Regions from separate parts of the Homo sapiens genome. Here region 2 is linked to region 1. A link means that fine-mapping ties the variant in region 1 to the expression of a gene that starts in the linked region. Tissue or cell type: blood mononuclear cells. Region 1 holds a variant in brackets; the other region holds the start of a gene. All regions are shown on one strand. Distances are from middle to middle.

Region 1 (5,359 bases):
GCCAGGCACAGTGGCTCACGCCTGTAATCCCAGCACTTTGGGAGGCCTGTGGGTGGATCACCTGAGATCAGGAGACCAGCCTGGCCAACATGGTGAAGCCTTGTCTCTACTAAAAATACAAAAATCAGCCAGTCATGGTAGTACACACCAATAATCCCAGCTACTCAGGTGTATGAGGCACGAGACTTGCTTGAACCCGAGAGGCAGAGGTTTCAGTGGGCCGAGACTGCACCAATGCACTCCAGCCTGGGTGACAGAGCAAGACTCCATCTCAAAAAAAAAAAAAAAAAAAAATTAGCCAGGTGTGGTGGCACATGGCTGTAGTCCCAGCTGCTCAGGAGGTGGAGGTAGGAGGATTGCTTAACCCTGGAGGCTGAACCCAGGTGACAGAATGAGACCCCATCTTGAAAAAAACAAGAACAACATTTAATCAGCTCAGAAGTCCCAAATCTGATCATCGAAGTTGTGTCTAAATCAGGTGTTGGTGAGGCTCTGGGTAGGATCCAGATGGGGGCAAAATTTTTCTCCATCTTTTTACTTGTAAAACTAGAAAGCAAGTTTTATGCCTCCAAACTGCAATGTTGGGCTAGGCATAGACTAGACATCACCATTCCCAAAGGGAGAAATATAAAGGAATAAAGGGGTTGCCAGTCCCAAGCAAGTCTGAAATCCAGCAGGGCAAATTCCGTGGGGTTTCAAGGCCCGTGAATGCTCTTCTGTGGCTCAGTGCCCCACCCTCTGCACCTGCACCTCTGCCAGCCTCTGCCTCTAGGCCTAAGGCCCTGACCTTGGAGTCATTCTTCCTTTTTCTCAAAGGGTAGCACATGTTTGCAGCTGCCTGGGTCTGTCATCCTGTTTCTTGCCTGTAGACTCTCAGAAGCCCAATACCTTCCTTCATTTCATCCTGTCTCTGTTCCCATCAATCCAAGCAGGCAGTGTTTCTGCTGGTAAAACATTCTCATAAACCTTCTGGGTCTCCCCTGTATGTCACAGGGAGCCAGGCCATTAGAGAGAAGGGTTCACTCGGATCCTCCCTGGATAATCTTGTCTCTATTCCTGGCTTCTGTTGAGATGAGTGAATGGACCCATGAGTCACATACCTCATCTCTGCAGAGATGGCTTTCTCTGCAGAACACACTTTCCTAACAGTGAACCTCCCAACATGAGCATCTTTTGCAATCTAAATAGGCTGCAGATATCCCAAATCACCCATGCTGTTTCCTTTTTGCTTAATAGTTCCTTCCTCAATTTATCTCTTTCTTCCTGTACTTTACCATAAGCAGCAAGAAGCAGCCAAGCCACACCTTCCACACTTTGCTTGGAAATCTTTTCAGCTAAATATCCAAGTTCATTGCTTACAAGTTCTGTTGAGCACCCGACAGTGAACACAGTTCGGCGAAGTTTCGCTTCAATGTGAGAAGCACCTTTCCTCCACTTTCCTCGTTGCCTTCTAAGGCTTCACCACAAGCACCTTTAATACCCATATTTCTACCAACCGTCTGGTCAGACAGGCTAGGCTTTTTCTACTGTGTGCCTCAAGATGTCCCAGCTTCTGTTTATTACCCAATTGCAAAGCCACATCCACATTTTCAGATATTCGTCACAGAGGCACCCTGCTCCTGCTCGCTGTCTGTATTGATTTCCTTTGATTCCCACAGGGAAGAGCCACAGGCAGGGCGCCCTAAAACAATAGAAATTTATCTTTTGATTGTTCCGGAGGCCAGAAGTTAAAAATCCGGTGTCGGCAGGTCCACGCTTTCTCCGAAGGCACCCGGGAAGAGCCTAGGAATAGCCGCCTGCCTCTTCCAACTCCACTGCCCCTTGGCTTGTGGCTGCATCATGCCAATCCCTGCCTCTGTGTCTCTCCTCGTCTAAGGACACTTGCTTTTGGATCTAGGGCCCATCCAGGTAATCCAAGATGATCTCATCTCAAGATCCTTTATTTAATTATATCTGCAGAGACCCTGTTTACAAATAAGGCCACATTTATGAGCTCCAGGGACATGGACATAGATTTTTTTGTGGCCACCATTGGACCTACCCAGCCATCCTGCAGTAGTTGGTTAATGTAGAACTTACACATTTTTGTTCCATAGTCATTGTTTTAAAAAGCGTGCACAGTGGGCTGGGCACGTGATTACAGGTGGCACATGCCTGTAATCCCAGCACTTTGGGAGCCTGAGGTGGGAGGATCTCTTGAGCCCAGAATGTCAACACTGCAGTGAACCTGGGCTACAAGAGCAAGACCCTGTCTCAAAAAGAATAAAAAAATAAAAAAGCATGCACAGTGTTCTTTAGTGTGTGTTAATTTATCTGTAATTTCATGATTTAATGTTATGAAGTATTTTAGACATAAGTAACTTCTTTTACTTAGTGATACAGCTTGGGCATCTCTCTGTGACATTAATTTACAATACAGCATTCCCCTGTATGGAAACCATATCATATTTAACCAATCAATCCTTTCTCCTAGGACACGGAGTTTAATTTTGGATTTTTGTATTAGAAATGACTGCAGTGAACAGTGTTGTAGCTGGGTCATTGTGCATCTCTATGACTGTTGTTAAAAAGGGAATTTCTGGCCAGGTGCGGTGGCTCACGCCTGTAATCCCAACACTTTGGGGGGCCGAGTTGGGCAGATCACGAGGTCAGGAGTACGAGACCAGCCTAACCAACATGGTGAAACGCTGTCTCTACTAAAAATACAAAAATTAGCAGGGTGTGGTGGTGCACGCCTGTAATCCCCGCTACGCAGGAGGCTGAGGCAGGAGAATCACTTGAACCTGGGAGGCGGAGGTTGCAGTGAGCTGAGATCGCGCCATTGCACTCCAGCCTGGGCGACAGGGCAAGACTCTGTCTCAAAAAAAAAAAAAGGAATTTCTGGGTCAAGTGGTTTTCAAAATTTAAGCTTTAATTTACATCAAGATAC[T/C]GTTTTTTACCTATCGTATTGGCAAAAATCAAAAATCTGGATTTCTAGGTTCTGTTGCTGAAGCTGTGGGAACCAGGCCAGAGAAAGCGTCTGTCAGAGCCACAAACGCGCAGTGTGTGTCCGAGCAGACGATGGTCACTGGCCTGAGTGCGCTCAGAGGCTGGGCCCACACGTGCCGCTCTGCATGGCCAGACGTGGGTCACGGTCCCCGTGCAGAGCGGGAGGCCTCCAGCTGTGGGGTGGGTGGGAAAGCAGGGGCAGAATGGTGCCCGGAAGATTTCACCGTTTGTGTTAAAAGGAAGAAAACCAAGAATCACATGGTATTTGCTTGATTTTCTGTAAAGAAATTCTGGAGAAACAAACAGGAAGCCACTAACAGTGATTTTCACACTGTGTGTGTGGGTGGGGGGAGACAGGGAGAAGGGAGGGGAGCAAGACTTCTCTGTCTACTCTCAGTGTTTGAGTCACGTGAATATTTTCTATTCCAACACGATTTTGATTTTTAAAGTTTAGTGAAGGGAAGAATGTAAACTGTTATAAGTTCTTTTTTTTTTTCTTGAGACAGAGTCTTGCTTTATCACCCAGGCTGGAGTGCAGAGATGCAGTCTCAGCTCACTGCAACCTCCGCCTCCCGGGTTAGAGGGATTCTCCTGCCTCAGCCTCCTGAGTAGCTGGGATTACAGGCACCCGCCACCACACCCGGCTAATTTTTGTATTTTTAGTAGAGACGGGGTTTCACCTTGTTGGCCAGGCTGGTCTCGAACTTCTGACCTCAGGTGATCCGCCCGCCTTGACCTCCCAAAGTGCTGAATTACAGGCATGAGCCACTGGGCTTGGCCTAAGTTTTTATTTTATTTTATTGTTTATTTTATTATTATTATTATTATTATTTGAGACGGAGTTTCGCTCTTGTTGCCCAGGCTGGAGTACAATGGCATGATCTCGGCTCACTGCAACCTCCGCCCTCCGAGTTCAAGCGATTCTTCTGCTTCAGCCTCACAAGTAGCTGGGATTACAGGCATGCACCACCATGCCCAGCTAATTTTGTATTTTTAGTAGAGACAGGGTTTCTCCATGTTGGTCAGGCTGGTCTCGAACTCCCAACTTCAGGTGATCTGCCTGCCTCGGCCTCCCAAAGTGCTGGGATTACAGGCGTGAGCCACCGCGTGCCTGGCCAGTTCTTTTTTATTTTTTTTGAGACGGAGTCTCACTCTGTCGCCCAAGCTGGAGTGTAGTGGCATGATCTCAGCTCAATGCAACCTCCACTTCTCCTGCCTCAGCCTCCTGAGTAGCTGGGACTACAGGCGCCCGCCACCACACCCGGCTAATATTTTGTATTTTTAGTAGAGATGGGGTTTCACTGTGTTAGCCAGGATGGTCTCAATCTCCTGACCTCGTGATCTGCCCGCCTTGGCCTCCCACAGTGCTGGGATTACAGGCGTGAGCCACCACACCAGGTTTCAGACACAATTTTTAAACAATTTCTAAGTTGCTGGCTAGGTACTGCAGTCGTCGTCCCTCCAGCAGTGCCCAAGTGGGCCGACTCCTCCCACCTGCCCAGCACCCGGTGTTGGAGCTTCAGACAAGTCACATGGCCTCGCTGTCTGACGGGAACTTGTGTAAGGAGTCTCCTGGCAGAGCCAGCGGGAGGGTGAGCAGAACTGCGGCCGCGTCAGGTTAGCGCGGCATCTGCCACCTGGGCCTCTGCATCCCGGACCCCGAGCCTGGTCCTGGAGCCATCCTGGAGCCGGGGCGTTCCCTGCATCAGCTCTGACCGATCGTCAGTTATCTTATTCCAGCACGTTTTGTGCTGATGAAGAGTTTTTCCTGCTGTATTTTCCTAACTTGTTATTACTGGCCTAAAGAAATCTCTCGGGTCTTTTAACTGCGTTTGAAGCCAGCCTCTCAATGAACTTTCTCTGAGCTCCAGTAAATGGTGAGTTGAGTTGTTTCAGGTGCCAAGAGGAGCAGTGCTGACTTGGGTAAATGCTGTCCCATGTCCTGGCGCTGGACCGAGAGCTGCGCCTGCACCGTCCGCATTCACCCTCACACGCCCTCCCCTCAGCAGCCTCGCCTCACACTGGGAGGGTGCCCCGCTGTGCTACAAGGGTCATTTATTTGCATGTTAACGATGTAAGCTCATTCCTTGTTATAAATACTGGTTTTTATCAAATGAGCTGTCGAGATTTTCTAGATCAATATACCGGTTTTCTCCTTTAATCTGCTAGTGAAGTCAACGATATTAACAGAGTTCTGGGAAAGTGCATTATCCCTGAACTCCAGGAATTCATTTCTTCTCTTGCTCCATGTTTCCTGTGGTGACACCTTCGTGTCTGGTGCTGGGTGAGGCAGCCGCCCCAGGGGCCCACAGGTGTCTCGGTGTTGGAGGGCTGAGAGGGAGGGAAGGGGGAGCCACCATGGATCAGGTGA
Region 2 (5,359 bases), 21 kb after region 1:
GCGGCTTCCTGGCTGCGCTGGGCGGGGCTGCGCGCCAGGGGCAGGTTCTTTGGGTCTGGGCCTCGCTCCCGCAGTGGGCGGATTGTGGGGGGGAGGTGGAAGAGGTGGAGAGCGAAGCCGGCAGCCTCGCAGCGTGGGCTGGAAGCAGAGGCGCCGCCGCGGTCCAGCTCCCCGCACTGTCCGTGGGCCGAACCAGGGCTCCGGCCGTGGCCGGCATGTCGGGGGCGGGGGGCGCCTTTGCCTCGCCGAGGGAGGTCTTGCTGGAGCGGCCGTGCTGGCTGGACGGGGGCTGCGAGCCGGCCCGCAGGGGCTACCTCTACCAGCAGCTGTGCTGCGTAGGTGGGTGCAGTGGCGTGGCCGGTGGCACAGAAGGGGCCACCATCGCTCTCACCTAGTGGGGCTGGGTCTCTGCTGGGAACCGCCGCCTGGGCTGGGATGGGGGTGGCGCCTTGGCCCGGTGCAGCCTTGCCCCCGAGCTCCGGAAACACCTGGGGAGGAAGGCGGGGTGATGTTCCCCTACCCCCATTTGTTTGTCTCTAGAGAAGGGGCTGGAGGGGGCGGGGCTGGAGGGGGCGGGGCTGGCCCACCCCCGGCTGTTCCACGTCAGCCTGGGCTTTGGCCTGGGTTTCCAGGACACGGGGGAGGGAGGAGGTGCTGAAGGCGGGGCTCCAGGCCTTCTGTGGACTTGCTGCAGTCCTGGGCCAGTGGGATTCCCTTCCCAGTCTTGGGGTTTCCATCCTAGGACCGTCTCCACTAGCTGCGGGACCTCAGCCATAGGGTCCACACCTGTAAAACGGGGGCGATACTCCTCAGAGGGCCACGGCAGTGCCTGTCGTGAGGGACCCTGGGCTGGCGGCCGAGGGTCAGCAGCCCTGGACAGCACAGGTGTCAGGCAGGTGTGCAGAGGCACCTGAGCTGGGGGTGTTCTGGGTGCGTCCCAGGTGGGAGAGCCAGCTGAGCTGCAGCTGTAGAGGGTGGGTGTAGCCTGGCTGGGTGGGGCGGGTGTGTCTGTTGGTTTTAGGGTCAGAATAGGATTGGATGGGGCGGGGCAGGCTGGGCTGGGAGGGAGGGGAGGTGATGAGGAGGGAAGAGCTCAGAGCAAAGAGGCACCCAGAGGCAGGAAGTAGGGAAGGGGAGCTTGAGCCAGGCTTGGGAGGTGGAGGCCCCTGACCGAGCCCCCAGCCCACCTGGTCCCAGCCCTGCCCCGCCCCAGCCCTTCTCCTCACCCGGTCCCAGCCTTGCCCGAGTCCGTGTCTGGAGTCCCCACCGTGCCCCTTCCCTTCCCTGAGCCCCTGCCCCATTCCTGACCCTGGCCCGGCCCAGGGCGGCATCTTTGGAGGCCTGTTAGTGGCAGGGAGAAGGCTGGAACAGGGGCCTGGCTGGGGTGGGCTCCACGTGGGTCCTGGACCTTGGCCCCGGCTCCCAGTTTCCAGCTGTCGTGGACTCCCTGTGCCCACCTCCCTGGCTGTTCCGGGATCTCACACTGTGCCTCAGCAGAGTGGCAGCCCCGTTCCTGCAGGCAGGAGCCACCTGGTCACGGCCGGGCCCCCAGAGCCCATACCCAGCAGGCGCGGGGCTTGGCCTCAGGGTAGCTGCTGGCCCAGGGCTTCTGAAGAGGCGACAGTGTTTCCAGAGGCTTTGGACCCAGGGAGGGGCGGCAGAGGTGTGGGGTCCGGGGTGCCCTTGGGCACAAGACTGGAGGTGCTGACCAGTGCGGGGTCAGATTTTGATTTGGGGGCTTCTGGTGACTCCTGAGGTTCTGGAGGCTGCTGGGCCGGACAGGCAGAGCAAGAGGGTCACCCTGAATCTCATGCCAGGCTCAGAGACCATGCATGGAGACCAAGGGGTGTCTTCGTTGGGCGGCGTGTACGATGTGGCAGAGCCCTAGGGGCTGGCTGTGCCCCTTGGCGTGGAGTGGGGGCTTCCCCACCTCTGAGGGGTTTGGGCACCCCCCATTGTGAGGGTTCTGGTGCCCCCTCACGGCCTCAGGGGCAGTAGGAATGAGGTGGGGTGAGCTCTTCCCAGAACTGAGGCCGAGTGCAGCTCCCAGCTGGACCGAATCTGCCTGATGTGCGGCTGGAACATTCTTGTGGTTGGGGCAGCGCATTCTTTCCTATGGTGGTCGGGTGGGCTGGGCAGGCCCAGAAGCTGGCCAGAGGCAGCTCCGCCCCGGACCCCAGGGAGCCGGAGGCCCCAGCCAGCGCAGGCCCTTTGCCCTTTGCCCTTTACAGCATGAGACTGCTTCCCTTGAGCCCCACCCAGCTGCAAACAGCACCCCCCACCCCTGGGGTCGCCCAGGTCCTGCCTCAGGTGTGGCTTCCCCTCTGTGAGTCACAGGCTTGGGCCCCCTCCCCATCCCTGACTCACTGGCGAGGCCCCTCCTGGGGCTTCCCGATGCTCCATTCCCCCATGAGGCCCGGCCTCCGTGAGTCAGCCCTCAGCTACGCGCCTCCGACGTGAGGTGTCTGCCTGGGGCAGGGTGGGCTCCGCAGGTGGGCACTGCTCCAGGATGTGCCAGGTGGGCAGCTTGGGAGGGGCCAGGCCTGGGGTGGGACCCCACTGGCCCCAGGGCCAGGGCAGGCACCATGGGGCAGGGTGTGCTCCCCGCTTCATGCAGGTCTGTGAAGAGGTGTGATTGGGGGGCTGCAAGAGCTGACAGGCAGCAGGTCCCCTCCCCTCGCCAGGTATCAGCGGCTTCTTGAGTCCGCCCTGGCAGGGTGGGTGGGCAGAGGCTGAAGCAGGGCCTGGCCCAGGCCTGGAGGGAGCTCCAAAGAGAGGCGTGGCCTCAGAGCCCCTCCCGTCGGGGGAGCCCTTCAGTCTGTTGGGGGGTCCTTCTGGGTGGCTGTGGGGACGGCCTGTGTTCCTCTGCGGTCCTGGCACCATTTGGTGTGCAGTGAAGTGCCAGCTCCCCGTGTCCCCAGGTCCCCCTAGGGGGCTGCAGTGGTCGGGGTGGGTGAGGAAACCCCGGTTTCCTGTTTCTGGCGGGCCGAGGGCGTGTCTGTGGGGGAGGGGGCTGCTTGCTCCTTCCCGCCGGGACACTCCCCTCCCTGGCGGCGGCCTGGGCAGGGTGGGGCCTCGGGGGCGGGCCGGCCTCGCCGGGGAGTACAGCAGGCAGGGAGTGGCCGCACCGACTGGGGCTCTGAGCTGAGCCTGTGCCGAGTGAGCGTCTCGTGGGGCCGCCAGCCTTCAGCTGCCTGTGTGCCACACGGGGCTGCCCAGAGCACCGTGCCTGAGGCCGAGGGTCCGGGCGACGAAGGTGTGGGGGCAGCATGTCTCAGCACCAGCTCCGCGTGCCGCAGCCCGAGGGCCTGGGCCGAAAGAGAACCAGCTCGGAGGACAACCTGTACCTGGCTGTGCTCAGGGCCTCTGAGGGCAAGAAAGGTAGCAGGGCTCCCCTCGGGCACCCCCGCCAGGCAGGGCGGGCCCCTGCGGGAGGAAGGCCCACTTCCTGTGGCAGGAAAGCCTTGGCACCGCTGGGGGGCTGGTCTTGGAGATGGGGGTCGGGGGCCAGCCATCCCCACCCAACACGGAGTGGGCCGACAGGCGCCCGCGAGGCTGACGGGGGCCTCCGAGCGTCAGATGTCGGGCCTGGAAGGGCGAGGAACTCTGCGCTCTGGGGAAGGTTCGCTGCCCTGTCAGCAGCACACGCGGCTTCCCTTCCAACACCCCAGCGGGCCCGGGCCCTGGCTCTGCCACACCCCTGCTTGGGTCTCAGTCTGTAGAGGCCGGGGGGGACTGCAGGACGGGACTTGTGTGCCCTGGGCTCAGGGTGCGCCCAGGACCCTCCCATTTCCTCGGGGGAAGAGTCCGGGGTGGGGTGGCTGCACCTGGTGGCGCCTGGGCCCCTGGCACCTGGGTCTCTGCTGTGTGGCTGGGCTGCGGGTGAGGGCGCCTGGGTCTCAGTGTGTGATCTGAGGGAGGCTTTGGGGCTCCCCAGGCAGGACCTGGCCAGCCAGGCTGCTGTGTCTGCACGGTGGTCACCTGAGGGCCCCCGGGGCTTCTCCCAGGCCCCAGGTAAGCTGGTCTTGTCTCCCCCAGATGAGCGGGATCGTGTGCAGAAGAAAACCTTCACCAAGTGGGTCAACAAGCACCTCATCAAGGTTGGTGGCGCATGCTGGTGCGTGTCACAGGGGCTGAGGCTGTGGGAGGCGCTGAGGGAGGGTGGCCCCTGCCGCCCAAGGCTGTCCCCATGCTGCCTGTGTGCTCACCTTTCATCTCTGAAACCTGTTATTTTCTGTCCTCTTTCTTCCCTACGCCTGCTCCTGCCTCTCTCTTCCTCCTCTTCCTTCTGGTCTTTCCTGGTCTCTCCTTGCAGCACTGGCGGGCAGAGGTAGGTGCCTCCGTGGGGCAGGGTGTGTTCCGTGGGCTCCCGGGAGACTCAGCCCCCGCCTCCTTCCCTCTGGGACCAGCACCCACTCTGTAGATCAGCCACTCAGGGCCTATTGGTGGCTCTGGGGGACTGGCCACCTCAGCCGCTGCTGTCCCCACAGGCCCAGAGGCACATCAGTGACCTGTATGAAGACCTCCGCGATGGCCACAACCTCATCTCCCTGCTGGAGGTCCTCTCGGGGGACAGCCTGGTACGTGTGCCCCTGCCCCCTCCGGGCCCCGCCTGCCCCACCTGGAGACCTCTGCCTGCCTTCCCTCCTTGGGGCCTCTCCGGCCGCCCACTCTACTTGGAATCCAGCTCAACCCCTCCTGCCTTCTCCCTGGGGGCAGGCTGGCCTCGTCCCTGGCAGCACCTCCCGCCCAGGCTGCTGGGCATCACAGCCGAGGGCCTGGCCTGGGAGTGGCCGCAACCCTCGGACCTCGGCTGCTCTGGGCCTTGCCGCCCTCCGCGTCGGGACACAGTAACCTCATGCTCCGCTTTGCTTTGGTTTCTCTGCTGCTTGGACTCTGAACCTTGACCTCTGCCCTTTACCCTTTGCCCTGCTCTGGCCGGGCAGCCGAGGGAGCGGGACGTAAGCAGGAGCTCACGCCTGGTGAGTGGCTGTGCCTGCCGGCTGCAGCGGCACGGGAGCTCCCCAAGACCGTGGAGCCCGGCTTTCTGGGGGCTGGTGGCCCGTCGGCCAACCCCTGCCTGGCTCTTGGGCGGGTAGGTGGTTGGGTGTCAAGCTGCCCGTCCACCGTGCTGCCCAGAGCTGGCCTGGGACCCACCGGTGGCTGCTGTGGCTGCCACCGCCAGGCAGGAGGACCCCCCCTTTAGTGCCACTGCCCTCCACACGAGGCTTCCTGGCTATTGTCTCCTCCCACCCCTTCCTTCCTTCCCTCAGCCTGGGTCGCTGGACTTCCCGAGCCCTGATGGGCCTGGCCTGGCCCCTGGGCCGGTGGCCTCCCTTTCCCTGCGGGGGAGGGTGAA

Evidence for each region. PIP is the estimated chance that this variant, and not a neighbour inherited with it, causes the effect.
Region 2: it holds the start of PLEC, and the variant in region 1 is fine-mapped to the expression of PLEC in blood mononuclear cells (TOPMed, PIP above 0.99).

The regions. Positions count from the first base shown.
Region 1 is chr8:143,958,745-143,964,103 of GRCh38, reverse strand. It overlaps a transcript of PLEC not described here. Among named protein-coding and RNA genes, the nearest start is that of MIR661, 16 kb to the right of the region's middle. The variant T/C (reference allele first, on the strand shown) is at 2,930.
Region 2 is chr8:143,937,372-143,942,730 of GRCh38, reverse strand. PLEC (plectin) reads left to right here and starts at 3,134. Exons shown (of 32, transcript NM_201384.3): 1 at 3,134-3,381; 2 at 4,039-4,100; 3 at 4,491-4,580. The coding sequence starts at 3,270. RefSeq lists silencers at 1-350, 571-660, 2,908-3,137, 3,418-3,517 and enhancers at 2,216-2,510, 2,688-2,747, 3,158-3,397.